7 linked regions of the Homo sapiens genome follow. Changing the gene in region 7 together with the main gene of any one other region gives a genetic interaction. Each region holds a gene or a part of one and is shown on either strand. Other genes may lie near its edges.

Region 1 (4,478 bases), on a different chromosome or scaffold from region 7:
CTGAACTAGGAAGGGCTTTTCTAATTTTCTCTGGAAAAGATCAAAACATATAGAGTATGAAACTAAGAAAATATGTCAGATACTATTCTTATAAAGGGCTAAAGTATTAACTTGTTTAATCCTCATGACAACCCTACAAAACAGCTACTATTATCAACACCATTTACAGATGAGAAACTAAGGTACACAGCAAGGAAGTGGAGGAGCCCGGGTTCCAGCCCAGGCAGTCCAGCTCCAGAATACAGGCTCTCAGCCACTACGCTGTGGTACTGGCAAATACATCAATTTGAAAGCTCTCCTCATTAATATTAGAAGAACAATTTGAAAGTGTGCTTTTTTTGCAAATGGATTCGTCAACATAGAACAGTTTTATCTTTATAAATTCTGTGAATAAGTGCAAGTATAGATTAATTCCACCTCCACATACACCTAAACTAAGAAATCTGACAAAGGTTTTAAAAAAATTTGATGAAAATATATTTCTTAAAGATCACCATGAATTACTGGCAATCATAGCGATCCAATATACTTTTTTCTCATCCACCTATTGAAAAAGGGAGGGCAGTGGCCAACTAAGAAAAGAAATTACCCTGGATACTAACAGACTTTTAAAGAACTTGGCTACAAAAGGTAGAGATAACCAAGGTATCCAATCAAAAGGAGCTAGCTAGGTGGGTCACAATAAATATGCTCTGGGCAACATTACATAATGCAGAAAATGATATTATTAATAGAAAGGCTACTTGGCAGCATGGAAATGCTGACAAAATATGTTAGGTAGCAAAAGACAAAATACCAAAGTGAATATTCACCATGATTACATAATTTTTAAAAAGGGAACTAAAATACTATTCTGTGGTAGTATTCATGAAAAGAAAAAAATTAAAAGAAAAAAACTCAAGCCAGGCATAGTGGCTCACACTTGTAATCTCAGTGCTTTGAGAGGCTGAGGTGAGAGGTTTGAGCTAAGGAATTTGAGACTAGCCTGGGCAACATAGTGAGACTTCATCTCTACAAGAAATTAAAAAATCAGTCGGGCATGGTGGCACACACATGTAGTCCCGGCTACTTGGGAGGCAGAGTCGGAAGGACTACTTTAGCCAGTTCAGGGCTGCAGTGAGTTATGATTCCAAGACCGCACTTCAGCCTGAGTGACAGAGCAAGATCCTGTCTCAATCGATAAGTTAAAAAGATACTAACCACATATAGTAAGTATAATTAAAAGAAAATGCTCCAAACAGTTAGTGGCAGCTGTGGTAAAATTATGGGCTACTGGGTATTTCTTTTATACAGATTTTTTCATTGATATTCTATTACTTATATCATTAAAATAAAACCGTGATATATTAGGTTCATAAGTTAAGAAACTATCTCAATAAACTATTTCTCTTTCCTCGAGATGACCAAAAAAAGTATTTTAATGTTCATGATACAAACCAAAATCGATATACTCATCAATTTCCCACACAATGTCAGGCACAATCCATTTATATTCACTAAGGTCCGGTATCATATCTTTCCACTGATCAAAAGTCTAAAAGACAAGAAAGTGTGTCAATCAGATGCTCTGCATGCCAAATAAACATGTAAAGAAAAATTATTTAATTAAAACACATTAATCTACTAAGAATAATGTATTATGTTCAAAACTTTTAAGAAACAAAATTAAGTGGTCTCAGCAAACAAGCATATAAAACAAGTTAACACTCCTCTGTTAAATATGGAAAATGTAAAAATTCAGAATATACTCCTATTTCAAACAGGTTTCATAATTTTGCCCTAAATATTACTGTGGGGTAGAAGGAAGACAGACTGGGAGACAGGACGCCTTGCCTCTGGTCCCAGACCTGCCAAGAAGTGCTTGTGTGAGAATGCCACCTGACTTTCACATCTGTGCTACTAAATGTCTAAGCTCAAAATCAAACCTAGGTGTTCCTATTCCCAGCCCTGTGCTCCTTCCACTAGGCCATTTTAATTTCCTGTAATTATAACTAAGATTCTAAAGGCATCTTCCTATTAGCATCATTAAAACAATCTAGTCCATGGTAGAGACACAAAATAAATGTTTAAACATCCAATTGTATTCCACTACACAAAAATGATTTATGCTATAGAAACTTAATCATGATATAATAATTGGAAAACCAGGAGGAATGTCAAGTTCACCTTTTTGGCTGTGTAGCCACCCCCAACAGCCGATCCTAGTATGAGATAGCGAAGTTTTAAGAGTCTCGTAGCTAATCTTGCTGGCCAAAAATTCCTGCGAGGCTGGTAGCCATATTTAATTGGAGAGAATTTCAGTTTACGTAAAGGAAGGTTTGTCAGAGAAGAGAACTGCTGAAAGGATGTCCTTAATTGGGGTCGTTGAAGCTTTAAGGTAGGATGATGTGAATGATAAATGCTTCGTGAAACCAGATGTAGTTTTTGTAGTGGTAAACTTCCTTTTATTCCAGAGCTGTGTTTCACTAAAGACTGGCAGACCTCACTGAAAGAAAAATGAATATGGAAGAAAGATCAGAGAGGGTAACAGTACAAAGGAAATGACATTAAAAGAGCAATATACTAAAGGAAACACAGCCCCATACGTGACTAACCACAATGTCACACAATAGTTCACATTTACTAACCATTGACTATGTGCCAGACATGGTTACAGTATGTGCTATCTCATTTAATCCTGCTAACAATCCCATGTAGAAAGTACTAGTATTATCCTCATTTTACAGATGAGGAAAATGTGGTGCAAAGACTTAAATAACTTGCCCAAAGTCACACTGACATAAGAAACAAAGGCATGATTCAAACCAAAGCAGTGGGACTCCACTCTAATATGTGGGCTATGATCCTGGTCTCAGGAATTGAAACCAAAGAGAGAAAAGGCAGGGACTTATTTTATTAACTACTATTCACTGTAAGTAAAAGTTGAAAACAAAAATGCATGCAAACTTTTGCTTTCAAAAACAAAATTTCTAGCAGTTTAGAACACCTTCATCTATGTCTCCCGATCCTGACAGCACAGGGGTGGAAATTAAGGAAGTTAATCAATCCCAACTCAAGCACCTGGATCCCCAGAAGAATGAAAGTAGCAAAAAAGCTCGAAAGGGAACAGAATTTAAATGTACACATTGACTGTAGAGCTCCACCCTCTTCTTCTTCCTGAAGAGAATGAAAGGTTACCAACAACCATATCTTAACATACACTCATAGTTGCATACATAGTTGCTTGCTTACTATTAGTTGCTTACTAATAATCAGGGCCAGTCTGATTCTAAGTAGTTAAAAAATATTAATTCCTTTAATTACAAGGGACTGGAAACTTCTTAAGAAGGAGGCAGGGTGTGGTGGCTCACACCTGTAATCCCAGCACTTTGGGAGGCTGAGGTGGGTGAATCACCTGAGGTCAGGAGTTCAAGACCAGCCTGGCCAACATGGTGAAACCCCATCCCTACTAAAAATACAAAAATTAGCTGAGTGTGTTGGTGTGTGCCTGTAATCCCAGCTATTCAGGAGGCTGAGGCAGGAGAATCACTTGAACCCAGGAGGCAGAGGTTGCAGTAAGCTGAGATCACACCACTGCACTCCAGCCTGGGCAACAGAGTGAGACTCCACCTCCAAAAAAAAACAAACAAACAAACAAAAAAAAAACAAAGAAGGAGGAGGAGGAATCAAGGAAGACAGGAGCAATGCTGTGAAGAATGGTATGGGGATATGGGAAAAGCGGTATCTCTTGTGTTCCTATACATACCAGACATTACGCTAGCTGTTTTCACTACAGCATAACTATATAAATGTTAACTCTCAGAAACACCGAGTAAGGTTAAGTATCCTTATTTTACAAATTTTTTTTTTAAGTATTGTTAAAGCAAACTAAATATGGCCTGAGAAGGACTCCATACTTCTATATTTGTGTTCTTGTGGACAAACCATAACCTAGCACAATAGGCAGACAAAATGGAAAACCTGAGTAGTATGCATCTGTAATAATAGCTGAGTGTTGGCCAATCCCAGTGGCCATACTTCAAGCACTAATAGACTGCTAAGTGTTCAAACTGCATTCAATTCTGGAGGCTGCCTGATTTGCAAAGTGTTTATTTTCCTTGCTTAATTAAACTCCATCAAATTTAACTTGTCTGAAGTTTTCTTTTAACAGATCTGGTGTCAGAAGTGGGATTTGAAGAAAAACTCTGGCAACCCCCTGGAACACCAGGTGACCTGGTGAGGTACCCACTGAGGCCGTTGCTCTCACTGGTCTCTTGATTGTAACTGGAGGTCATGGGTGAGTTTTCTCTCAGATTCCGAGCTCCACTAACTTGTGTTTTGAGCTCTCCGAGTTTACTCAAGCAATACTTAGCCTGGACTGGATCCAAGATCAAATTGGATTTGATAATTAACTGGATTGGATTCAGTTAGAGGCCTCAGACCTCTGATAAGTACCTTATTTAATAATGGGATCATCTCAATCCAAGGAGTCTGGGACT
Region 2 (3,568 bases), on a different chromosome or scaffold from region 7:
ACATGGTGCTAGAGAGAGATTCCATACTAAAGATTAGACAGGTGAAAAGAATAAAAAGAAAGTCAAATGATTCCACCAACTCTTTCAATGATCATATATTCCTTGTTTGGAATTTAGTAAATGCTATTTTAAAACCCAGGAAGGCTGGGCATGGTTGTTACACACCTGTAATCCCAACACTTTGGGAGGCTAAGGCGGTAGGATTGCTTGAGGCTAGGTGTTTGAGTCCAGCCTGGGAAACACAGTGAGACCCCATCTCTACACGGAAATTTAGGAAAATCTAGCTGGGCGTGGTAGTGCCCACCTGTAGTCTGAGCTACTTGGGAGACTGAGCCCAGAGGTTCAAGGCTGCAGTGAGCTATGATTGCACAACCGTATTCCAGCCTGGGCAATAGAGTGAGATCCTGTCTCTACAAAAACAAAACCAAACCAAGCCAGAAAAAGAGATACTTCACAGATTACAGAAGATGTAAGATTCTGTTTGCCTTTTTTTGAGACAGAGCTTCACTCTTGTTGCCTAGGCTGGAGTGCAATGGTGCAATCTTGGCTCACCGCAACCTCCGCCTCCCAGGTTCAAGTGATTCTCCTGTCTCAGCCTCCTGAGTAGCTGATATTACAGGCGCATGTCACCACGCCCGGCTAATTTTTGTATTTTTAGTAGAGACAGGGTTTCATCATATTGGTGAGGCTGGTCTCGAACTCCTGACCTTAGGTGATCCACCCGCCTCGGCCTCACAAGGTGCTGGGATTACAGGAGTAAGCCAGCGTGGCCAGTCTCTGTTTGCCTTTTTAATGTCATCTACTTCATTTTGTAAGTAGGGTATCAAGGAAATAATTATCAAGGTATAGTTTGGGAAAAGGTGAGCAAATCCTTAACACAGCTGGCCCAAGGTTTTATTTGGTAGGTCTAAATCTTGACCTTATGGCTATGAAATTTCAAGTTTGTGCTTGAATACATGATTAAAAGAATGAAAATGAAATGACCGATAGTACGTACCATTTTAGTTTTTATTAATAAAATAGAAACTTAGACTCGGACAACTGCTTTATTCTTGCATCTAATCTGACCATATATTGGAGTAGCAATTCTTTATAAAAGGACTTCGGTGAGAACTGTCAATATATCAGTTCCATCAAAAACTCTAGGTTGGAATATCTTAAAAACAGCAAATTAAATATGAGAAAGCACAGAAATCTCTCCCTCAAACAAGAAGGGCTTCCTTTAATAGACTTTAATATAGCTCATTTACAATCGTATGAAAATCCATCAAGATCAATCATGTTGCACAATCCCTAAAGGATAAAACTGAGGGAAGTCATGGATAATTTTCACAGCTTCATTGTAAAGTCCAAGATCTGAAAGAAACATTTAAGCAAACATTTAATCTACAATGGAAAGTTGTAACATCAATTATTATCTAAGATATTTTTACCTATTTCCTTTTTCTCACCCTTTTGGAAGTGAGTTTCTAAAAATGGAGATATGGATTATGGATTCTTGTATTTAACTGTGGCACCAAAAAAAAGACATGGGAGTACCATCCATTTTGATGTTCATTATACAGGCAGTTTCTGCCTGGTAGTGTTTTGGGTGTTATGCATTATTCAATTCCTTCAATTCAGATATTACAACAAAAAAACTAATACTATTTTTGTTATATTTAAAAAAATTATCTTTCAACAAACATTAATTAATCTTTACTGAGTTTCTTACATATATAAGCACTACTTAAAAGCAGGCCAAAACAAAATGTACCCCCATTTGCCTTTACGATCACAAAATTCTATAGAAATTGAAAATGTGGCAGTACTAAAACTCTAGACCAATATATATCAAACTAAAAATAAAACTGTTTTCCTGTATGTTTATGTTATGTAATTGTATGTAATACATACAATTTTGTATGTAATACAAAATGTATGTTAAAACATAGTTATATAAAACTGTATGTTATGTAATTACATACAGTTATATAAAACTGTATGTTATGTAATTACATACAGTTATATAAAACTGTATGTTATGTAATTACATACAGTTATATAAAACTGTATGTTATGTAATTACATACAGTTATATAAAACTGTATGTTATGTAATTACATAAAACCAGTCAATACTAGAATGCTTTATTTACCAAAAGGATGGCTATCTTCTTTAAACTGGACATAAGATGTACACAAGATGGTGGCCTTGGCGGTTACTCTTCCAACCACTTCCACAATTCCAGAGATTTCTTCATCAAGCTAAGACACAGAACAAGACATCGATTTGGTGATATCACATTTTCAGTTGACAATTATTTTGGAAAACTGTTATACAGGTTACTAATCTATCACTTCAAGTAACAAAGTAATTTTAAGAATTACCAGTGTAAAAGTTAAAATGTAACTTGTTAACAAATGTTTGAGTACTTAACTGTCAGCATGTTAAAATTCCTGCTACCTTTAGCAGTAGCTTCAAGTCCAAAGCTACAATTCAAGTTAAAGACAAAATCACTATTGAAAACGTCCAGCATTTCTATAAGCAGTAATATCCTATGAGAGGAATCTTCTATAATCTGTATTTCACAATGTGTTCTGTATACATTAACCAAACAGCATATGGATTTGTCTTCACAAAATACCAAAAAAAGTTTTAAGTATGTTAAACATAAAATGCAAACATAAATAAGTAAAAACTGGAAATATATGAACAAAAATAGAAAATAAAATAAAATCGAAAACTCTTGAGGGGCTGGTCGAGGCAGGAGGATTGCTTGAGACCGAGAGTTCAAGACCAGCCTGAGGAACATAGGGAGATGCCATCTTTACAAAAAACAAAACAAAACAAAACAAAACAAAACAAAACAAAAATTAGCCAGGCATGGTTAAGCATGCCTGTAGTCCCAGCTACTGGGGAGGCTGACATGGGAGCAACTTGATCTTGGGAGGCTAAGGCTGCAGTGCGCCATGATGGTGCCACTGCATTCCACCCGGGGTAACAGAGTGAGACCCTGTCTCAAAACAAAAAAACAAAAACGAAACAAAAAACCTCTTGAGGAAGAAAAAAGCAACGTAAATTTTTCTTATGTGATTTTATGGTCTTTCATAAGGAATGAGAATTGTTATCCAACATTTATGGGATATGTTCAAAAATCATGACGCCCAAAAAATCATTGGTTAAAAATGTAAAAGGAAATATAATGAGAGAATAGTACAAGAATTAAATTTTACAGCCAGGGACGTTTTACCAGCTCATCCTTTTTAAATCCATTGCAAAAATTAGAAACATCGGCAACAAACCAAATCAAGATGAAGAATTAACTATAATATATAAGAGACTTATTAACACTTAAACATACGGGTTCCATCAACTCGATGGTTCCATTTTTTCCTTCTCCATCTGAAAGAATAAACATTTTTCCGGTGGGATGAATCTAAAAACGAAACATATAATTAAAATCTCACTAAAACAACAACAAAGTTTGACTAAAGATGAGTACATTGATCCTTAGTTGAGCACAAATCAACTGTTTCTTGAACAGTTTATTCATTCAGTTTATTCAACTTATTGGATCAAATTATAA
Region 3 (4,478 bases), on a different chromosome or scaffold from region 7:
TTCTCCTTTTGAGGGCAGGGTTGTTCTTTTATGAGTTGCTATAATGAGTTGGTTGGCCTCCAGCCAGGAGGTGGCGCTTTCAAGAAAGCATCAGCTGCAGTAGTGTGGTGGGGATACAAGCTTGCCCTAAGGTTGCCTGGATAAGTATTTGGGTTTCCCAGGTGATCAGTGGGGCCATAAAGCTCCCAAGAGTTTACAGTCTTTTGTCTTGGGCTACCAGGGCAGGTAGAGAAAGACCATCAGGTGGGGGCATATCTGAGCTCAGAATCTCCTTGGGCAGGGTTTGCTGCAGCTGCTGTGAAGGACAGTTGTGTGGTTCTCAGGCCAATGGAGTTATGTTCCCAGGGGGATTATGGCTGCCTCTGCTGTGTCATACTGGTGGCCAGGGAAGTAGGGGAAAGCCAGCAGTGACAGGCTTCACCCAGCTCCCATGCAGCCAGCAAGGCCAGTCTCACTCCCACCATGCCCCACCAACAGCATGGGGTTTGCAGGGCCAAGATTTTGGCCCAGGCTACAAGCCTACTTGCTGAAAAAGCAAGCTAGCCTTTTGGACTCCGCCCCTTCCCGACTGCTGTGGCTTATGTGCTCATATCTGTACTTCCCCTTTACGCCTTCCCCATCTTGATTGTGCCCAGGAAAATTTGCTCTCCGTCAAAGTTATTACAAAGTTCACCTGGAAGTTTCTGTCTCCAAGTGGTCCTTCCTCAGTTCCACTGGCAGCACTCCCCAAGGACCCCTGTGAGATTAAAGTCAGAAATGACTTCCCTGGGCTTCACTGGGAACCGGGAGTGCCTACAGGGCTCTTCCCGCTGTTGCTTCTTCTATTTTTATATTTCACTCGGCTCTCTAAATTTTGTTTCAGCACTAGGTAAGGTTAAATTTTTCTCCCATGATCTGGATTTTTAGGTTCTCCAGTGAGGATGTGTGTTTGAAGGTGGATTTTCCCCCTCTTACACATGGGCACTCACAGATTTTCTGCTGTCTCATGGATTTTGCAGCAGCAAGCCACTTCTTTTAAAGGGTCTGTGAATTCTTTCAGTTTTCCTAGTATGTTCCTGCAGTAGTTCTTGGAATAAAAATTCACAGTGTGAGTCTCCACATGTTGTTCTGTCTGTCTGAGGGGAAGCTGCAAGTTAGTCCTGCCTCCTATCTGCCATTTTTTTTTTGCCACCTCATCCTCTTGAGTAGCTGGGACTATAGGCATACACCACCATGCCCAGCTAATTTTTGCATTTTTTTATAGAGACAAGGTCTCACTCTGTTGTCCAGGCTGGTTTTGAACTCCTGGCCCCAAGTGATCTACCCACTTCAGCCTCCCAAAGTGCTGGAATTGTAGGCGTGAGCCACTGTGCCCATCCTGGTTTGAACTTTTTATGATTAATATGTATTGCTTTTATAATTAAAATGTATTTTAAAAATTAAAAAGTGTGATGGAGTTGGGGAATAAAATACAGTATAAAATGCTATGTTCTTAGAAATAAGTGGTCCTGTGGCCATGCAGAAAAAAAATAAGAGCAGTTGTGAGGGGAAATAAGTAATGAAGTTAGAGAGCAAAAAATTTCCAAGCCTCTTCATTGCCCATTTCTTCCCATCCTTGAACTTCAGTTTTCCATTTCACTTCGGAAAACAGATCACATAACGAAGAAAAATTATCTTAGAAGAAAAAGGGCAAACTTGCCCATCTTAATAATTTGTCTTCTCTATTCATTATGTGTCTAGTCAGTGTAGTTGATTAATTTGATATGTTTTCTGTTAGCTTTTTTGTGTACTGAGTCTGTGATTTTCTTACAGATGAACAAATTGATTGAATATTACCAGCAGCTTGCTCAGAAAGAGAAGGTTGAGCGAGATCGCAAGAAACTGGCACGACGTAGAAACTATATGCCTCTGGCTTTTTCGGTGAGAATTTGGTACTAAAATGATTTGCAAGACCTCTAAGGCCTAAGAACAGTGATCATTTCAGAAAATGGCCATTGTCCTAGATTCCTGAATGGTGGATATCAGAGAGAGGGATTCTTCAAATTATAGACGTTTAAGTCCAATAGTTAGGCTTTTGCTATATCATTAGTTCTGTTTGAGTTATTTGTGTTTTGAGGACATTTGTGTTTCTTTCTCCATCACTCCCCTTTATCTTCTGATTATTTCCCCAGAAAGGCTGTTAATTTTGTAGGCACTGCAGAGTTCCACGTACAGCTTTTGTGTATTACAGAAAGTCTGAGAAGAAGGAGGTGGGCAAATGGTAGATTTCAGTCATATTACCCCTGTAGCCCACCTTTGACATCCTGGCAGTAGTGGTTTCTCAGCTTTAGTTATAATTTTTTTAACATCCTCCCCTGTTTCTCCAAGATGAAAAACACTGACTTTTTACATAGTGCACTTGTGTGGTTAAATAGTAATATATGCAAGTAGAATTTTTGATAAGAATTATTTATGAGAGTCATTCTCTACCAGTTTACGTACTGCTAGTAAGAAGAAAGAAATTAGGATTTGGAATTTTTGTTATTTTACCCCGAGTTTTATTTGCTCTCATAGTACAGTTTGTTTTCTGTGTGCTTGCTTGGGGCCCAGCAAATTGACATTCAATAAATAACATTTATTGAATGGCAATGATGTGTCAAGCTCTGTGCTAAATAAACACTTTACATGTATTACTTTACTTAATCCTCACAAAAATCCTGTGGAGTATCATATCCCCATTTTACGCTTGAGGAAATGGGACCTAGTTAAGCAACTTGTCATACTGCATCCACATGAAAATTAGTTAAGTCATTGAAACCCTAAGGGTTGGTAAAGTCCATATAAAAATACCTAGATTAAGCTGGGTGCAGTGGCTCACGCCTGTAATCCCAGCACTTTGGGAGGCTGAGGCGGGGGGATCACTTGAGGTCAGGATTTCAAGACCAGTCTGGCCAACATGGCGAAACCCTGTCTCTACTAAAAATACAAAAAATTAGCTGGGCATGGTGGCGCACGCCTATAATCTCAGCTACTTGGGAGGCTGAGGCATGAGAATCGCTTGAACCCAGGAGGCGGAGGTTGCAGTGAGCCAAGATAGCGCCACTGCACTCCAGCCTGGGTGACGGAGTGAGACTCTGTCTCAAAAAAAATCTAGATTAGAATTTAAAAACATTAACACTTGCAAAGCACCTACATTTGCAAAAAGAAGTGAATTTTTCTGAATAGTCCAGTGGTATAGTCAGCATATGCACCAATGTGTGTTATATTTAGAGGTAGAATTTGAATTAAATGAATTATTCTTCCAATTTTCCCATATAACCTGCCTGCTATATGCGTTTGCTTCTATCTTATGCTGCATTTTTTGTCTCTGTTGCAACCTGCTGCTATTTTGGGGCTCTACAGCAACATACTATTCATGTAGTGGTAAGTTCTCCTTTATGATTCTTGCTGACCCTGAAGAAGTTAGCAGATGACCACTGGTGTTCCAGGAAGACGTCTGTTGTGTATCTTAGACACTCCACATAGTTCTTGCCTGAGCCGTAGCTTAGATACTTTTAGATTACTAGCAGAAGCTCACATTTGGTTCATTTTTACTGTATTAATATAGTTTCAATCTCCATGTTTAGTGCTGTTATTATTTTAAGAATAGAATAATGATGTGGGGCTACAAATTGCTTTCTTTAAAAGAAGCCTTTAGATTAGCTTTTTTTTTGCTTATTTCCCTGAGCTTCTCATGCTATCCTACCCAAAATTCTTTCTTTTGATAAATAGGGTGTGTAAAAGTGGACTTTCTAATAGGAATTTCTGAACTTTGTTTAGGACAAATATGGTCTTGGAACCAGGCTTCAGCGACCACGAGCTGGTGCATCCATCAGTACCCTTGCCGGACTTTCGTAAGTTTAGACATGAAATGACTTTGAGGAGAACAGCAGGTATCAAAATGAATATCAAATAAATGAGATTAAAACACACACACACACACAGTTGTCAATGGAAAAGAAGATTCTCATACTTAGAAAAGACCTACGCTATACAGATATTCTATGACAGAGGAATACTTCAATTATTGATATCATAGACTGAGGATAATCAGGTGGATCCGTGAGAAATTACTCTTTTGTTTTGTTTTGTTTTGTTTTTTTAATTTTTCAGCCTTAAAGAAGGAGAGGATCAGAAAGAGATAAAGATTGAGCCAGCTCAGGCTGTGGATGAAGTGGAACCTCTACCTGAAGACTATTATACAAGACCAGTAAATTTAACAGAGGGTAATTTTCTGTGTTTTTCTACTTTGTTTCTAGTCTACATCTAATTCTGTTTTTGTTATTTATGTACCTAGTGATTTGAGATTTTTAATGGAATAGCTGTTAGTAGTAAAAACAATATGTAGAAAATAAAACAGCTGTAATAGAGGTAATTGTTTGAAATCTAAAATGTCAACTTTCTATATTTTCATTTTTATGAACAACACTGTTCGTAAAGGCAGTAATGCTTCGTGTAATTACTGGTACATAAAAGTCTGA
Region 4 (4,478 bases), on a different chromosome or scaffold from region 7:
CTTATTCCACGACTACATGCTGTAACAAATTCTTGTTAGCAGTCTAACAAGTGATGGCTAGAGTCACTCTTTCAAAATATTTGAGTAACTCTTGTGTGAGGTACTGTTCTCACTGCTGGAGATAGAATCATAAGTTAAAACAGATCACATAGGGCTTAGTCTACTGGAGGTGATACACATTAATCAAATAATATGACCATATCAAATGCTCTAAAAGAAACAGTGATCTACAGTCACATTAAAAAAAACTCTGCTGGCTTGGCACCGTGCCTCACACCTGTAATCCCAGCACTTTGGGACGCCAAGGCAGGCAGATCACTTGAGGCCAGGAGTTCAAGACCAGCCTGGCTAACACGGTGAAACCCGTCTGTACTTAAAAAAAAAAAAAAAAAAAAAAAAAAAAAAAAAAAAACCATCTGTACTAAAAAAAACCCATCTCTAATAAAAAAAAAATATATATATATATATATTAGCTAAGTGTGGTGGCACACGCCTATAGTCCCAGCTACTTGGGAAGCTGAGACAGGAGAATCGCTTGAACCCAGGGGGCGGAGGTTGCAGTGAGCTGGATCATGCCACTGCACTCAAGTGCAACTCTGTCTCAGAAAATAAATTAATTAAATAAATAAATAATAAAAAATAAAAAAACTGTGCAAGACAGGATGACTAGTGAAAGCCTTCCAGGGGAAGTGACTCTTCATTTGAAATTTGAAGTACCAGTTCAATAGGTAATGGAGGAATATGAGGAGGGAGGGCCTCACTCCAGGTGGAGGAAACAACTTATAAAAAGGTCCTGTGGTGGGAGGCAGGTTCAAGAAATAAAAAGAAGACCCAAATGGCAGAATAAAAGGCAGGGAGAAAGGTGACTTATGGTATCACAACATGGTAAGCCATGACTCTGGTCTTGATCCCAAGAACAGAAGGAATTAACTGAAAAGTTCTAGGCAAAGGAATGACATGACCAGATATATGCTTGTAAAAGATGGCCCTGGGTGCAGAGTGGATATTAGGAAGAAGCCAGAATAAATACAGGTAGTAGGCCATGTAATAGGTCAGGCAAAAGAGCATGAACTATGGTTAGTGACAGCTGTGCTGAAAAGAAATTGGTGAATTTAAAGTATATTTGGAAAGCAAAATTGGCAGGACTCCAGTGAATTACACAGAAGGGTAAAAGAGTTAAGGATAACTCTTAGATTTCTGGTTTGAGCAACTAGATGGATACTGGCACCATTTATGAAGACAGGACAAGAGATAGCACCAGGTTTGCTTGTAATAGAAGGTTAGAGAAGTAAATTTAGAAGTAGTCATAGGGACAGGAGTGAATAAAGAGTGAGAAGATAAGGGGTCCTAGAATGAGTTTTGAGGATCTTAACAGCTTGCAAACAAAACAAAATTGTAAAAAACAAAATAACCACAAAAATAAGACAATAATTGACTTGAAAAACGCACATCATAAACCCCTAGAGAAGAGACTTTCAAAGAGCAACACTACAAGACAGAAACAGTTGAATATCTCTAATGTGCTAAGAAAAAAATAAGTCTATCTAAATGTCTATCTGTAGAAAAAAGATCTTTCAAGAAAAGGCATAAAATAAAGCATTTTTAGAAAAGTAAAGTACGGTTAAATTTAAATTACACTTACGCTTAGTGATTCATCAAAGACTCTCATGAGTTTTCCAGTTACAAATCTGAAAATTCTAACTTTTCTATCAGAACCAATAGTAGCTATTTTCTTCCCATCTGGTGAAAAACATACGCTGGTTGGATAAGCCTTACACTTGGCAAATTCATATAAATCAGTGTCAGTTTTATATTCCCAGTTCACATTTTTGGGGAATTTATATTCATGAGGAGGCCCAGTCCAGTATTCAATCATCCCAGATTTGTCAGAAGACACTACTGCTTTGTAAACTGGGTTTAGCCGTATCTGAGTAAGAGGTGATGTATGGAGTTTGTCAAAAATATGAAGTGGCTGGTTATCTCCTCGGCCATCATAAATGAAAATTTTTCCTGTACTCTTTTCGGAAGCAGCAACTGAAGAAATTGCATCCCCTGGGCAATAGATCCACTCACACTGTCCAGGAAAATAGCTAAAATCGTAAAGAATTGAGAGGGAAAAAAAAAGGTCAGCACAACAAGCAAGCATCCCTCCCTATCCCACTACCAAAAATGTCTTGGCTGGTGATTTAGACAGTTTTGGATTCCTTGCTCAAAAGTAGCAGAGACACAGAATGGGGAGGAACAGCTAAGAATAGTTACTTATTTTTTCTCTTTCTGACCTCATCAGTATAATGATAGTTCTAAGGATCTGTCAAAACATAAGAAAAGAACTGCATATAGCAGCACACTTATTTCTCTTGGGCAGATAAGGAAACCTAATCAGATCTGGACCTTAAGATCTTCTGGGACATTGCTTTTTGGATCTCTGTACAACAGTCTATGTATAACTTACTTTAAAATAGATTAGCATGTAATAGTGTATTTTATAAATCCTTTCTTGAAATATTTAAATCAAATATTTTATTATGACAATACGTCAAAGAAAAACACTGTCCTAAAACACTCTCATTACTAACTAAATCTTGATATTAAAACTCAAAGCTTTAAACATTCTACCTGATGAACAAGGCATAACAGAATTCAGACTGATCTAATCAATTGTACTAAAACACTCAAAAATGAATGTTGTTTCCTTCAAAGTAGAGATTCGGAGAAGTGACACTATTATTCTAACCACGGTGCTGATGTTCAAAACCTTCCAGACCTCTTCTTCAAGAATTTCTATCAAAGTCTGAAATATACTCTTCCAAGTATTCTCAAAGGGCAAACATTCAATATCTGTGAATGGAAAGCTTTGAGGAAACAAACCTGGGGAGTAGGACAGGTGATCAAGACAGGTATGTTTGTGCCATTCTAACCATAAATAATGAGATTTATTTCCTTTAGTGGCTCATAAAGTCATAAACTGATTTTGAAGGAAATTCTAAGATGTGAAATTATTTGAATTGTGGGCATAATTCAGCCCACAGTTGGAATTCCATCAGTTGGAATTTCTAGAGACATGGTCTTCAGGAGGTAATTAAGGTTAATGAGCTCATAAGAGTCAGGGTGGGGTCCTAATCTGATGGGCTTGTAGCCTTATAAGAAGAAAAAAAGATCTCCCTTTCCTTCTTCCCTCTCCCTTCCTTCTTCCTCCAACCATGGGAGAACATAGGGAGAAGTAAGAAAGACAGCCCTCATCAGAAATCAAACCCTGATGGAACCTTGATCTTGGACTTTCCAGCCTCCAGAACTGTGAGAAAATAGATTTCTGTATTTAAGTCACCTAGTCTATGGTTTTTTTGTTATGGCATCCAAGCAGACTAAGGCGAGTCCCAAAACTTTCTGACACTGTTATGACTTTCAAGCTGACATTCATTTAGATGTGTATAAATTCTATGTTATCTTAAAAAAGACATGCTTAAAACAAAGTATCAGTCTTAATACTGTACAATCTAACCATAGTTTTAGTATCAATATATTCCAAAGTTTAAAGTCACCAATAAATAGCTTTAATTCCAAAAATGTGAATAAATCTTATAGGAACTCAATTCTATATTACTGAAATAAGTAAAGCAAGGAAGTTAACTGTAACTACCAGTAATTAGATATGACAGAGCTCCAGTAATATTACTAAGTAATGTCAATTTGGATATAAGGAATCCTTGTTATGATGCTGTTTAGAAATTTCTGTGATTGATAACAAATCATAGCAGATGCTTCCAAACATTATAAGGCTTCACTGTATCTAATTTTCCAAGCAAAACCCAACAGCACATTTTATTTAAAGATATGGTAATATACTATTTAGAAATAACCTATTAAATGGTAAAGTCTGATTTACAAATTACTTCAATAAGTTAAAATATATATACTTTTAAAAAGACTCACCCAAGTTTCAGCATGTTGATCATGTCAAAGTTCACTACATCAAACACCTTCATTGCTTTATCATCACCCACAGAACAGAACAATGCTCCCTCAGAGCTAACTGCAATACTCTCAATAACTCCTATTTCAATAAATGAAATTAAAACATTCTAGTAAATAACAGTAAAATAAGTGTGCATGATTCAAAGAAAAAAAATTTAAAAAATTTAAACTTTAATTAGTATAGTTTAGGAAAGAGCTACAAGAAAATGAGGTGCAATTCTTACCCAGGTGACTACGAAAATGTTTAACAAATTCAATTCCCTCTTCTATTTTTTTCCAGAACTTGACATGTCCATCATGACTGGCAGTAATAATAAAATCTGTTCTGCATATATGAAATGTTAAAAGTTAATTTCTAAGACAGATCTATGAATCACTTAGTATTCCCAAAGCAATCATTCACTAAGAATCTGACTTGTGCATAATAGGTTTTTTTTTAAAAAAAACCCTTCTTTAAGCAGACCACTATATTACAGAACACTGCAAATTTTGAAACTCCTTTCTGG
Region 5 (4,478 bases), on a different chromosome or scaffold from region 7:
AAGCTTCAACACTTCCTCTAAATTTAGAAACAATTCTTTTTACCAAGTGTACCAATTGGCTTGCAGGCTGTAGCCCACATACTGTTACAGGATAGCCCAGGGCCTGCCCTCCCTCTGTCTTCCAAATATTCAATTAATGGGGTCATTATAGGTCTTTGAGCAAACATCATTCCTCAGGAACGCCTTCCCTCAGCCCCTATTTATCCGGGGGACTTGCCTGGGTCCCTGGGTGGAATGCTATCACAGCACCTTAAATGACCTTTTACAGCGTACACCACAACTCATCATCAAATAGTTATATACTCATTTGATTAAAATTTATCCTGCCACTCAACTGCAGAGTCCATGAGAGCAGAGACCATGTCTGTTCTGCCTCGTGCCTCATGTCTAGTGCCCAACACAAAGGCTGAAACGAATATTACAGAGAAAAGCCACACAATTAAAATAAAGCTAATTAAGGCAAAAAATGTTCCATGGGACTCATGATCTTATTTTTCCTAAATACTTATACTGCCTCCACTAAAGAATTGCCCTCCTGTCTGCAGAGGAAAACATCTTCCCCAATGTCTTCACTGCTCCCAGCTCCAGGTGTTTTCCTTTGGCCCCGACTCCGACCAGGGAAGACTGCGCGAGATAGAGAGGCAGGGGGCAGGTTGCAAAGCCCCCTCCCCCATTCAGACCTAATTGGTATGGTGACCCCTCTTTTCCCATTTTCTGGGGCACAGGAGCTTCAGAACTTCTACTTTCACTGTTCCTGGACTGGGGCTTGGTTTCCTGACTTCATGGTACAGTGGGTAAAGGCTAAAAGTAAAGGGGGCTTCTCCAAGGCACCCTGGGATGGCACAAACCAGCAGCTGCCACGAGTCCATGCCCTGCTGTGGTCCCAGATCTGTGTGATGCCTTATCCTTAAGCACAGCTTGCCAGCCACAAGGTTCACCTGCCCCTGTGACGGGGGTGTGACTGAACCACAGCATGTTCCTACAATCAGACTTATCACGTTAGGACACAGGGCCCCACTACTCAGTAAAAATCAAATACCCATGCACATTGAAAACATTATCTGATGGTGAAATTATTTCTATAAAACTGCATTTTTGGTTATAGTTAATATGAGTTCCTAATAGGTTCAAATGTTTATAAACAGATTAATGGATTTATAATTAAGTTCAAAAGAGTTACCCACATTGGCAATACTTAGAAAATACTAGTGTTAATCACAACCACAATATGTATAAAAGTGTTCTGGGCCCTTGTTAACTCCTCAAAGCAATGAGGAGAATGACTATACATTTTGTATATACATACATAATGCTTGGCAGAGAAAAAGATAACTATTGTGAGACAATACAAGCTAGTTAGGAAAAACAACACCATGAATGGGGCTGAACTTCATCGCTTTAGCTTTAACTGTGATTTAGAAATTTCCTCAGACCATTAGTTTGACATTTATTCCACGAGTACTTGCTGAATGCCTACTCTGTCCTGCCACTGAATGAGGCATTAGACAAAACAGATAGTCTTTGCTTTCATGCATCTTACAGCTGAGAAGGGGAGGGAGTTATGTGTGTGATAATTTGATAAAAATCATCTAATGGATACTACTATCTAAATGCACACCACTAAGTGAAAGAGACCAATCTGAAAAAGCTACATCCTATATGATTCCAATTCGATGACATTCTGGAAATGGTGAAACTATAGAGACAGTAAAAATATCAGTGGTTGCCAGAGGTTAGCGGGGAGAAGGAGACAAACAGGTGGAGCACAGAGAATTTTTAAGGCTATGAAAATAGACTACATGATACTATAATGGTGGCTACATGTTACTATACGTATGTCCAAACCCACAGAATGTACAACACTGAGAATGAACCCTAATGTAAAGTTTGGACTCTGGGTGATGTGTCAATGCAGGCTCATCAGTCATAGCAAATGTACCACTTTGGTCGGGGGGATGCTGAAAATGGGGGAAGCTGTGCATGTGTTGGGTGGGGGGTATATGGGAAATCTCTGTACTTTCCACTCATTTTTGCTGTGAACATAAAACTGCTCTAAAAAAAAAAAAAGCATTTTTTTTTTTTCTTGAGGTGGAGTCTTGCTTTCTCGTCCTGGCTGGAGTGCAGTAGCGCAATCTTGGCTCACTGCAACCTCTGCCTCCCAGGCTTAAGCAATTCTCCTGCCTCAGCCTCCCAAGTAGATGGGACTACAGGTGCGTGCCACCATGCCCAGCAAAAAATAATAAAGGTTTTTTTTTTTTAAAGTAATATTAGTTTATTTATTTTTTTTTGAGATGGAGTTTTGCTCCGTCGCCCAGGCTGGAGGGTAGTGGTGCCATCTCGGCTCACTGCAAGCTCCGCCTCCCGGGTTCATGCCATTCTCCTGCCTCAACCTCCCGAGTAGCTGGGACTACAGGCACCCACCACCACGCCCGGTTAATTTTTTGTATTTTTAGTAGAGACGGGGTTTCACCATGTTAGCCAGGATGGTCTCGATCTCCTGACCTCGTGATCCGCCCGCCTCAGCCTCCCAAAGTGCTGGGATTACAGGCGTGAGCCACCACGCCTGGCCAGTTTATTCTTATATAGTAGAGATGGGGTTTCGCTATGTTGGCTAGGCTGGTCTTGAATTCCTGGGCTCAAGCAATCTGCCCGGCTTGGCCTAAAGTATTTTTGAAAATCTATTTAATTGCAAACTGTGATAAATGTTATGAAGGATAATTAACAGGTGTTACTGAGGTTGCAACAAGGGGAACTTGATGCGAATGGGAGTGGAGGAACACTGCCATGGGTCCCTAAAAGTGGTATTTTAAAAACACAACAAAATATGTACAATTATTTGAGCACCACTTGCTGACACTGGCGTGAGCTGTATGGAAAAGATAGGATGGCTGGTGTGACCAGTATCAAGCTCTGGGTGCATAAAAATGCTGCAAATGTTGATACCTTCCAACATTCTTTAGAAGCAAAAGACACATGGCATATGTAGGCATGTGTATGTGTACATACAGCATACATACTTTTGTTTGACCCAGAAGCTAGCTGGAGTTGTAACCCTGCCATCACCACTGCACTTAAGAAGCAGAGTCCTAATGGCAATTAAGAGGATTTTTGCTCATATCCATGAAATGTGCCACTGCCCCAAAGTACTTAGAATACTGCTGGGCACATAAGGAAGCACTGAGTAAGTGTAGGCTACACGATCTTCCCTCCTTTCTTACAAAAGCATCAAGTAACTTCTACAGAAGGCCCTCTTAGGAACTCAAGAGACTGGCAGACACAAGGGCTACAGGCACTGTCAACATGTGGAACTGTACAATACTACCATAAGGAATCAAGACCAGAAGGCAGGAAGTTATTATCATTCTTACCTTTGGGTCATCTCCAAACTGGCCAAATTGTACATCATTTAATAAACTACGAGCTGTTTTGATGATATCTTTACATTTTTTTGGTGTTTCTTCTACTTTCCCAGCCAGAAAGAGGCAACAGGCTCCTGTCACCTAAAAGGGAAACAAAAGTTCTTGATTTTTGTTATCAAAGGTCACACAGAAATAGATACAATAAATTTTGGCCTTCGTAATAAACTGGTCTTCCTCATTCCCCTACCTTTCTTTTTATCATTCACAAATACTCCGATACTCTAGAAGCTTGAAGGAAATTTTATACATATAAATCCCCCAAACTCTAGCTTCATAAATTATTTAAAATTTAACTTTCTTAAAAAAAAAGTCATGTAAACAAAGAAAATGCCAAAAAGGAAAAGAGTCACATAAATAAATTTTCTTCTCATATTCCAATCTGAAATTAACTCCCTAAACAGCAAGCTTTGCCGTGGAAAAAGAAAGAGCACAACTAAACACAGTCCCGCGGAATCCATCTCAGCAGCACTGCCCATGCTTCCTTTTCCTTCTAGCACAGTCCTGTGGAATCCATCTCAGCACTGCCCATGCTTCCTTTTCTTTCTGCTATGGTCTGAATGTTTATGTCCTAATTCATAGCTTGAGACCTAATTCCCAAGGTGGCGGTATGAAGAAGTGAGGCCTTTGGGAAATGATTCTGAATGGGATTACTGCCCTTATAAAAGAGGCCCAAGGGGCTTGTTCCTCCCTTCCACCATTTGAGGATGCGGCAAGGAGCCCTTTTATGAGGAACAAACCCTTACCAGACACAGAATCTGCCAGCACCTTGATCTTACACCTCCCAGTCTCTACAACTGTGAAGAGTTAAGTTTCTGTTGTGTGTAAATTATTGGGTCTAAGGCATATTGTTATAGCAGCCTGAATGGATGAAGAAACTGTCCCTCCAGTTGCCTCAACCTTAGCTCAGTCCCTATATCACTGGGGTCTGAACTGCTCTGTCTTCAGCTTCTCTTTGCCCACTCCAATCCTTCCTACATGCCACTCTCCTCACATAATCCTGATCACACTAGATGTCAGACACTCTGCCGGGGGTACAAAACTGATTCCAACATGGTCTCC
Region 6 (3,398 bases), on a different chromosome or scaffold from region 7:
AAGCAAAGCCTGTTTTTATTTCTTCTTCCAACAGTGCTTTATATTGTTTGGATATCTTGTTTAGGATTGATTTATTTTTCAGGGTAAATTCAATTACTGAGAGAGGAATTGAACCAATCTCAGCATTGCATTCTAAAATGGGGCAGTAGGTGGCACTCAACCTTTTATTAGCAGAAAATTGTTAGTTTCAAATTAGAGTGTTCAACACTGCTTCCCTCTCATTCATACACGTCTTCATTAAGAAGAAGTACTCTTTGTCTACAGCCCTAGTCCAACTTTTGCATGCAAAAGAAGAATCGAGGATGCTTGCTTGTTAATGCAGACTTCTGGGCCCCACCCCAATGATTCAATTCACTAGGTCTTATGGGGGGCTGGTTTCAGAAATCTATGTTTTAAACAAACACTTCCAGGTAATTCTGTTGTAGGGGACTACGCTTTGAGAATACGGCTTTAGGAGAATGAAAAAATGTAGTTTTATTGCCATGTTTTAAGATGGCATTAATAATAGTTACTGTTTACTGGGAACTTGTTATTTGCAAGCTCTGTGCTAGTATTTTACATAATTCTTCACAACATCCTGAAAATGTAGCTTTTGTTTTACCACTTTACAAAGGAATAAACCGAAGCACACAGAATTCAAATAACTATCACAAGTCACACAGCATGTAAATATTGGGGCTATGATTGAAAGGTTTCTAAAGTAGCTGGTTCTGCATACCTTTTGAGTATACAGCTGGGTTTTTGTGTCTCTCCAGTTAACCTAATGCATGGGTAAAAAGACATCAGGGGTCAGTGGAATAAACCAAGGTGTAGGACAGATTCATTCTGGGTCCTAAGCTGTTGTAGCATGGAGTCAGGGAAATAACACTGGAATATTAAAAGGTAACCTTCATTCTAGTCTGTGCATTCTCATTAGCCAGAAAGAAGACTGGATAGGTCTCTTCCCTTGCTGGCCTCCATTTCATTCATTTATGAAACAAGAGACTCAATGTTCTCTGTAGAAAACCTTTTTTAGAATCACTTGAAGAATTTGTTTAAAAATGCAAATTCCTGGGCTCTACTCTCAGACTAAGTGAATCAGAAGCTTTGGTGTGGGAGACCATGGAACCTGCAGTTTTAATAAATGCCCCAGTGATTTGCATGTTGGAGAATTATCACACCAGGTCACTGTGCTCTCATGTGGTGGGGATGCTCCACGATTGCTCTTGGAGTTGTGACTTCCTTGGGTGTGACTAAAGCCAGGTGGTGCCATGGACATCATAAATATAAATTATGTAAGTGAAGGCACTGCTTCAGTCAGGCTGTAAAAGCTATTTTGAAAGTGGTAAGGAAAAAGTAGGATTGTAATGAAGAAAATTTCCTTCCCAGGTTAAGCCTTCATTTGGAACTGCTTCCAGTACGTTACAAAAAGTAATAATAGCTAACCTGTGTCACTGACTGTATCTGGTACTATTTTAAGCACTATATATACATTATCTCAATGAATCTTTCCCATTGTGACATCCGGCTAGTTTTCGTGGCTAAGAGTGTACTTTCTAACATCCATGAACATTGTGGTCCCCACCTGAAGTTTCACTTTGCATGTTCAGTGATATGGTTTGGCTCTGTGTTCCCACCCAATCTTATCTCAAATTGTAATCCCCATGTGTCCAGGGAGGGACCTGTAATCCCCACCTAGTGACGGAGGGAGGTGATTGATGATGGGTGTGGTGTACCCCATGCTGTTCTCGTGATAGTGAGTGGGTTCTCATGAGATCTGATGGTTTTATAAGTGTTTGAAAGTTCCCTCTTCACTCGCTGTCTTGCCTGCTGCCATGTAAAATGTGCCTACTTCACCCTCTGCCATGATTGTAAGTTTCCTGAGGCCTCCCCAGCCATGCAGAACTTTGACACAATTAAATGTCTTTTCTTTATAAATTACCCAATCTTGGGTATTCTTTATAGTGGTGTGAAAATGGACTAATACATTCAGAAGCCATTATCTGTTATTCTTTAATGGCAATCTCTGAATGCTTGTACTTTCCTTCTTTTCCAAAGAATTACTGTAGACCCAAATTTTCATCATTTGAGTGTAGCACATTCAGAAAGTACACCAATTGCAAGTATACAGCACAAATTATGATCAGCTGATGAACATGTACAAATAACCCCCATTAAGACAAGAAATAGAACATAAATAGCAACCCTGAAGCCCCTACCTGCACCCCCGGTCACTACCCCATCTCTCTTCTCAAAAAGTAATCATGATAGATTAAAAAAAAAAAAGGTCAGCTTTTGTTTTTTCAACTCTAATTTATTGGGCAACTATTATATACATGGTACTGAAGATACAGGCAGTGAACATAGTAAATATGGCCCCTGCCTGAAAGAGCTGACTGATGGGAAAGACAACTGTACATCTATCATTGAAAGTATTTATTGTGGATTCAGAGGGACAGGGGGCTCTGAAAAATAGTTACTGCTTCTTTGGGGGTTTACTTAAAGAGATACAGTCAGGAGAAAGGGTAAAAACAAATACATGGTTCAGTAAAAAGCTATGATATCAAAATGTCAACTTAAGGGATTTTATTTTATTCTTACTATTTTAGAGACAGGGTCTTGATCTGTTGCCCAGGCTGGAGTGCAGTGACACGATCATGGCTCAGTTTAGCCTCAGCCTCCCAGGCTCAGGTGATCCTCCCACCTCAGTCTCCCAAGTAGCTGGGAGAATAGGTGTGCACCACCACACATGGCTAGTTTTTGTATTTTTGTAGAGATGGGGTTTTGCCATGTTGCCCTGGCTGGTCTCAAACTCCTGGGCTCAAGTGATCCTCCCACCTCGGCCTCCCAAAGTGCCGGGATTATAGGTGTGAGCCACTGCACCAGCCTATTACAAATACTTTGAATGAAAGCAAGGAAATATTGGTAGATGAATTATACTTGTGCACTAAAATAAAATTTTTAAAAATATCCAATAGGGACTTGAATGATTATTTTCACATATGGCCCAAGGAGGCTCATACAAATTCTACTTTGGAAAGGAAGGAATGGCAATATTAATTTCAAAGTGCAATTTAAGGAAGAAGTTAAATGACCCTAAAAAGGTTGTTTACACATGCAGTCAATTTGAGAAAATGTACAAGTCTTCTGAAGAGCATTTGTAAATTGCATGTGTCCACAGTGGACCCCAATATAAGAAATACTGATTTAAATGGTTTTTCTATTTGACTGTTTATCTAAATGGTCACAGTTCTTTACTCTTTTCATATATTGATGCTCTTTGCAATGTGACTTTGTATCTCCTCTTATTAAGAGGTGGAGTCTTTGAATCTGGGCTGGCTTTGTGACTTCTTTGGCCAACAGAAAGTAGCAGAAGTGAGAGTTTTCCAGTTTTCAGTCTAGGCCTCAGAGGTCTTGTT
Region 7 (4,232 bases):
GATGTCCACCTTGGCATCCCAAAGTGCTAGGATTACAGGCATGAGCCGCTGCGCCCGGCCCAGATCCCATCTTTATTTAAAATTTTGACATTTTGTTCATTATGGATTTTTTGACATTAATTTTGAATACAATATTTTAACAATTATATTACAACAATATCATCGTTATCATTGTGGATCAAATAGTGACCTACCCCCCCACCCCCCGCCGAATCCATGTCTACCCACAACTTCAGTATGTGACCTTATATGGAAACAGAGAATTTTGCACATGTAATTAGTTAAAATGATATCACACCAGATTAGAGTTAAATCCAATGAATAGTGTCCTTACAAACAGAGGGAGATCTGGAGATACTGAGACCCGGAACAGAGACACAAGGAAGGTCATGTGAAGACAGAGGCAGAGACTGAAGTCATACTGTCAAAAGCCACAGATCACCAGGAACTACCAGAAACTGAGAGGCAAGGAAGGATCCCTGTCAAGAATCTTCAGAGGCAGCATGGCCGTCCCACACCTTGATTTTGGACTCCAAGTCTCCAGAATTGTGAGAGAATCTCAGCCTGGCCCAGAAGGCTTCTTTGTGGGGAATGAGAGGAAGGGGGTTGAGAGAGCAGCAGGAATTCACTGAGACCTAAGACTTTGTTTGTTTAAAGCATTAACAAAATCAGTTCGCTTTGGGAAAAGTAGATTTTTTTTTTTTTTTGAGACAGAGTCTTGCTCTGTCGCCAGGCTGGAGTGCAGTGGCGCGATCTCGGCTAACTGCAACCTCTGCCTCCTGGGTTCAACCAATTCCCCCGCCTCAGCCTCCCGAGTAGCTGCGACTACAGGCACCCGCCACCACGACCTTGTGATCCACCTGCCTCGGCCTCCCGAAGTGCTGGGATTACAGGCATGAGCCACCGCGCCTGGCCGGAAAAGTAGATTTCTTAAACATAGAGACTTGCTTTTAAATTGTTTTATTACAATTAAAATTACACAAAAGCAAATCGATTCATTTCAATCAAAATAACTCATGTTTACATATTTATAACTGTACAATAAAATATATAAAATGTTTTCATATTTCATACTTCAATCATCATCTTCTTCCTCTTCATCGCTGATCACATACTTCTTATGCTTTTTATTTGCTTTATCATCATCTTCTGCTTTTCTCTTTCCGGAAGGTTCACCTTCCTAAACAGATACAATTTTTACAAATCTACAAGTCAATAAAGAACATTTTTAGGATGGTTTATGAAAAGTAGCTATGAGCTGAATGACCCTCTGACAACTCAAAGTAACGGTTCCTGCAGGTTGTGAGGGAGATTGTGAGGTGTCAGCAACTGTGAACTAATCTCTCACAGGGAAACCTTTGAACACAGAGTAGGATGTGCAGGAAACTGGAGACAGGATTTGCCACAGAAGGGGCGGGGCTCTCCCGAGGAAGTTCTGCCTGTCTAACCACTGGTCCTGTCAGGATATTTTTACCATGATCAGGTAATTTCTCAAATTTTTTTTCTCTGCCTCCTCAGCATTTCACTTCTTTTCATTATCTAAAATTCAGTATTTTAAAGACTGTTGATTTGGTTTTTTTGGAACAATTTGTTTCAATGCATTAAAAACATCATAAAGGTTTTTAAGAAAATATTTGATGACATTAAAGGGCATCTATAAACAAGTTTCCTCTGTTTAAAATCATTCTGTACAAACGTTCTAACAGAAACAAATAATTTAGGAAGTTACCTAAAAAACATTTTTTACAGATAGATAGAATTTGAACATGTCAGTATCTAAATATCAAATACTGATTAAAACAAACTGACACTAAATGGGATGGGCCGGGCATGATGGCTCATGCCTGTAATCCCAGCACTTTGGGAGGCCAAAGGGGGTGGATCACCTGAGGTCAGGAGTTTGAGACCAGACTGGCCAACATGGCAAAACTCCATCTCTACTAAAAATACAAAAATTAGCCAGGTGTGGTGGCGCACGCCTGTAATCCCAGCTACTCGAGAGACTGAGGCAGGAGAATCACTTGAACCCAGGAGGCGAAGGTTGCAGTAAGCTGAGATCGCACCACTATACTCCGGCCTGGGCAACAGAGCAAGCAAGACTCCGTCTCAAAAATAAATAAATAAATAAAAATTAAAAATTAAATGGGATGAACAAATGGTTTGAAGGTTGAAGTTAGGGAAAGCCAGACATCTTGCTGCTGTGACCACAGGCTGCTAGATGGAGAATGCAACCTGGTATGCCCACTTTTTTCTGATGGTTCTCATGGCTGGCCCTCTGACAGACAAGATAGCATCTCACACTTGTTTCCTGCCTTATTATCCCAAATACATTCCCACAGACCTGAAAGGCCATAGAATTCAAAGGGGGGAAGTTATGAATCCACAGTAAGGTATTTAGAGAAGTCCTCCTCCTCCATTTACTTCCCAGCTGACAGCAGTGAAATACCTAAACAGCAATATTGAAAGATGGACCCTGCCCCCAAGAAGGGACAAGAGCCCCTCCTTTCTATTCTGCAGGCTAGAGCAAACCCAAATACTCCCAGCGCCACAGGCAAAGAGCACATTCAATCACACTACTTGTCTTTTAATTTCCAAAGGAAAAATCTTAAAACGTTTTACATGCAATCACTATTTTTTGGTAACCTTCCAAAAGTGAGCCTTGGTGTGTTTGTCTTTTCAGCTCTAAAATCCTTTAATGAGATGAAATTTGAATCACTAAAAGAACTAGCATGGTAATTCTAAAAGATGGTACAGCCTGTCCTAAAGGCCCCTGGACAGCAGCAGCCAGGAGATGGCCAGGGCTCTCCCAAAGAAGTCTCACTGGCACCAGTCCTAATCCATCCTCTGGAGTAAGAAGCTGTGAAATTCTGCTTTAGAAAGCCTGCCAAGGACCGGCCGGGCGCGATGGCTCACGCCTGTAATCCCAGCACTTTGGGAGGCCAAGGCGGGCAGATCACGAGGTCAGGAGTTTGAAACCAGCCTGACCAAGACAGTGAAACCCCGTCTCTACTAAAAATACAAAAAATTAGCCAGGCGTGGTGGCGCATGCCTGTAATCCCAGCTACTCAGGAGGCTGAGGCAGGAGAATCACTTGAACCCAGGAGGTGGAGGTTGCAGTGGGCAGAAATCACACCACTGCTCTCCAGCCTGGGCGACAGAGGGAGACTCCGTATCAAAAAAAAAAAAAAAAAAAAAAAAGGTTGGGCGTGGTGGCTCACGCCTGTAATCCCAGCACTTTGGGAGGCCGAGGTGGGCAGATCACGAGGTCAGGAGTTCAAGACCAGCCCAGCCAACATGGTGAAACCCCATCTCTACTAAAACTACAAAAAAATTAGCCAGGCGTGATGGCGGGCACCTGTAATCCCAGCTACTTGGGAGGCTGAGGCAAGGGAATTGCTTAAACCCGGGAGATGGAGGTTGCAGTGAGCTGAGACCACACCACCACACTCCAGCCTGGGCGACAGAGCGAGACTCCGTCTCAAAAAAAAAAAAAGGCCTGCCAAGGACTGACTTCTCTGGCAGCTACACATAAGCACAGAAAAACACAGCAAAGGGAATGGGTGCAGTGGCTCATACCTGTAAACGCAGGGCTTTGGGAGGCCAAAGTGGGAGGATCACTTGAGGCCAGGAGTTTGAGTGAGACCAACCTGGGCAACATGGTAAGACATTTTGTCTTTACCAAAAAAAAAAATTATAATTGCTACAAAAAAAAATTTTTAATAAAATAAATAATAAGGCCGTATGTGGTGGCTCGTGCCTATAATCCTAGCACTTTGGGAGGCTGAGGCGGGCAGATCACTTGAGGTCAGGAGTTAGAGACCTGCCTGGCCAACATGGTGAAACCCTGTCTCTACTAAAAATACAAAAATTAGCCAGGCATGGATTTGGAGGCTGAGGCAGGAGAATCACTTGAACCCAGGAGGCAGAGTTTGCAGTGAGCTGAGATCGCGGCGCTGCACTCCAGTCTGGGCAACAGAGCAAGACTCCATCTCAAACAAACAAACAAACAAATAAATAAATAAATAAGCAAGCCAGCCAGCCAGCCATCACACAGAGCAAAGGTATATAGTTCCTCAGACTCCCAGGACTTAGAAAGGTGAGAGAATCCTTCAGGATGACTTCATTTTTGTGAAATTACACATGTGGGATGCTGCCTTACTGAACATAACTGCAACAGATCCCAGTGTCATATATAAATGCAGTAAATGACAAAAATATTTTTATTAAGTCTA

Evidence for each region.
Region 1: changes in LEO1 (region 7) and OPA1 together harm fitness less than expected from each alone (positive genetic interaction), as found in Homo sapiens cells (one large-scale study listed by BioGRID).
Region 2: changes in LEO1 (region 7) and RPA3 together harm fitness more than expected from each alone (negative genetic interaction), as found in Homo sapiens cells (one large-scale study listed by BioGRID).
Region 3: changes in LEO1 (region 7) and DCTN4 together harm fitness more than expected from each alone (negative genetic interaction), as found in Homo sapiens cells (one large-scale study listed by BioGRID).
Region 4: changes in LEO1 (region 7) and PPWD1 together harm fitness more than expected from each alone (negative genetic interaction), as found in Homo sapiens cells (one large-scale study listed by BioGRID).
Region 5: changes in LEO1 (region 7) and CCNK together harm fitness more than expected from each alone (negative genetic interaction), as found in Homo sapiens cells (one large-scale study listed by BioGRID).
Region 6: changes in LEO1 (region 7) and MRPL22 together harm fitness less than expected from each alone (positive genetic interaction), as found in Homo sapiens cells (one large-scale study listed by BioGRID).

What each region holds. Positions count from the first base shown.
Region 1 is NC_000003.12:193,612,730-193,617,207, reverse strand, and holds part of OPA1 (dynamin-like GTPase OPA1, mitochondrial), read right to left. Parts: intron 2,486-4,478; coding exon 2,167-2,485; intron 1,535-2,166; coding exon 1,438-1,534; intron 31-1,437; coding exon 1-30. UniProt on the Homo sapiens protein: Dynamin-related GTPase that is essential for normal mitochondrial morphology by mediating fusion of the mitochondrial inner membranes, regulating cristae morphology and maintaining respiratory chain function.
Region 2 is NC_000007.14:7,635,727-7,639,294, forward strand, and holds the end of RPA3 (replication protein A 14 kDa subunit), read right to left. Parts: intron 3,419-3,568; coding exon 3,344-3,418; intron 2,247-3,343; coding exon 2,138-2,246; intron 1,357-2,137; coding exon 1,274-1,356; 3' UTR 792-1,273; downstream 1-791. UniProt on the Homo sapiens protein: As part of the heterotrimeric replication protein A complex (RPA/RP-A), binds and stabilizes single-stranded DNA intermediates that form during DNA replication or upon DNA stress.
Region 3 is NC_000005.10:150,730,789-150,735,266, reverse strand, and holds part of DCTN4 (dynactin subunit 4), read left to right. Parts: intron 1-1,791; coding exon 1,792-1,899; intron 1,900-3,360; coding exon of another isoform or gene 3,361-3,381; intron 3,382-3,777; coding exon 3,778-3,851; intron 3,852-4,110; coding exon 4,111-4,223; intron 4,224-4,478. UniProt on the Homo sapiens protein: Part of the dynactin complex that activates the molecular motor dynein for ultra-processive transport along microtubules.
Region 4 is NC_000005.10:65,569,451-65,573,928, reverse strand, and holds part of PPWD1 (peptidylprolyl isomerase domain and WD repeat-containing protein 1), read right to left. Parts: intron 4,298-4,478; coding exon 4,197-4,297; intron 4,052-4,196; coding exon 3,931-4,051; intron 2,091-3,930; coding exon 1,643-2,090; intron 1-1,642. UniProt on the Homo sapiens protein: PPIase that catalyzes the cis-trans isomerization of proline imidic peptide bonds in oligopeptides and may therefore assist protein folding. May be involved in pre-mRNA splicing.
Region 5 is NC_000014.9:99,494,520-99,498,997, reverse strand, and holds part of CCNK (cyclin-K), read right to left. Parts: intron 3,501-4,478; coding exon 3,369-3,500; intron 1-3,368. UniProt on the Homo sapiens protein: Regulatory subunit of cyclin-dependent kinases that mediates activation of target kinases.
Region 6 is NC_000005.10:154,967,492-154,970,889, forward strand, and holds the end of MRPL22 (large ribosomal subunit protein uL22m), read left to right. Parts: 3' UTR 1-1,920; downstream 1,921-3,398.
Region 7 is NC_000015.10:51,937,081-51,941,312, forward strand, and holds the end of LEO1 (RNA polymerase-associated protein LEO1), read right to left. Parts: intron 1,206-4,232; coding exon of another isoform or gene 1,181-1,205; coding exon 1,076-1,180; 3' UTR 945-1,075; downstream 1-944. UniProt on the Homo sapiens protein: Component of the PAF1 complex (PAF1C) which has multiple functions during transcription by RNA polymerase II and is implicated in regulation of development and maintenance of embryonic stem cell pluripotency.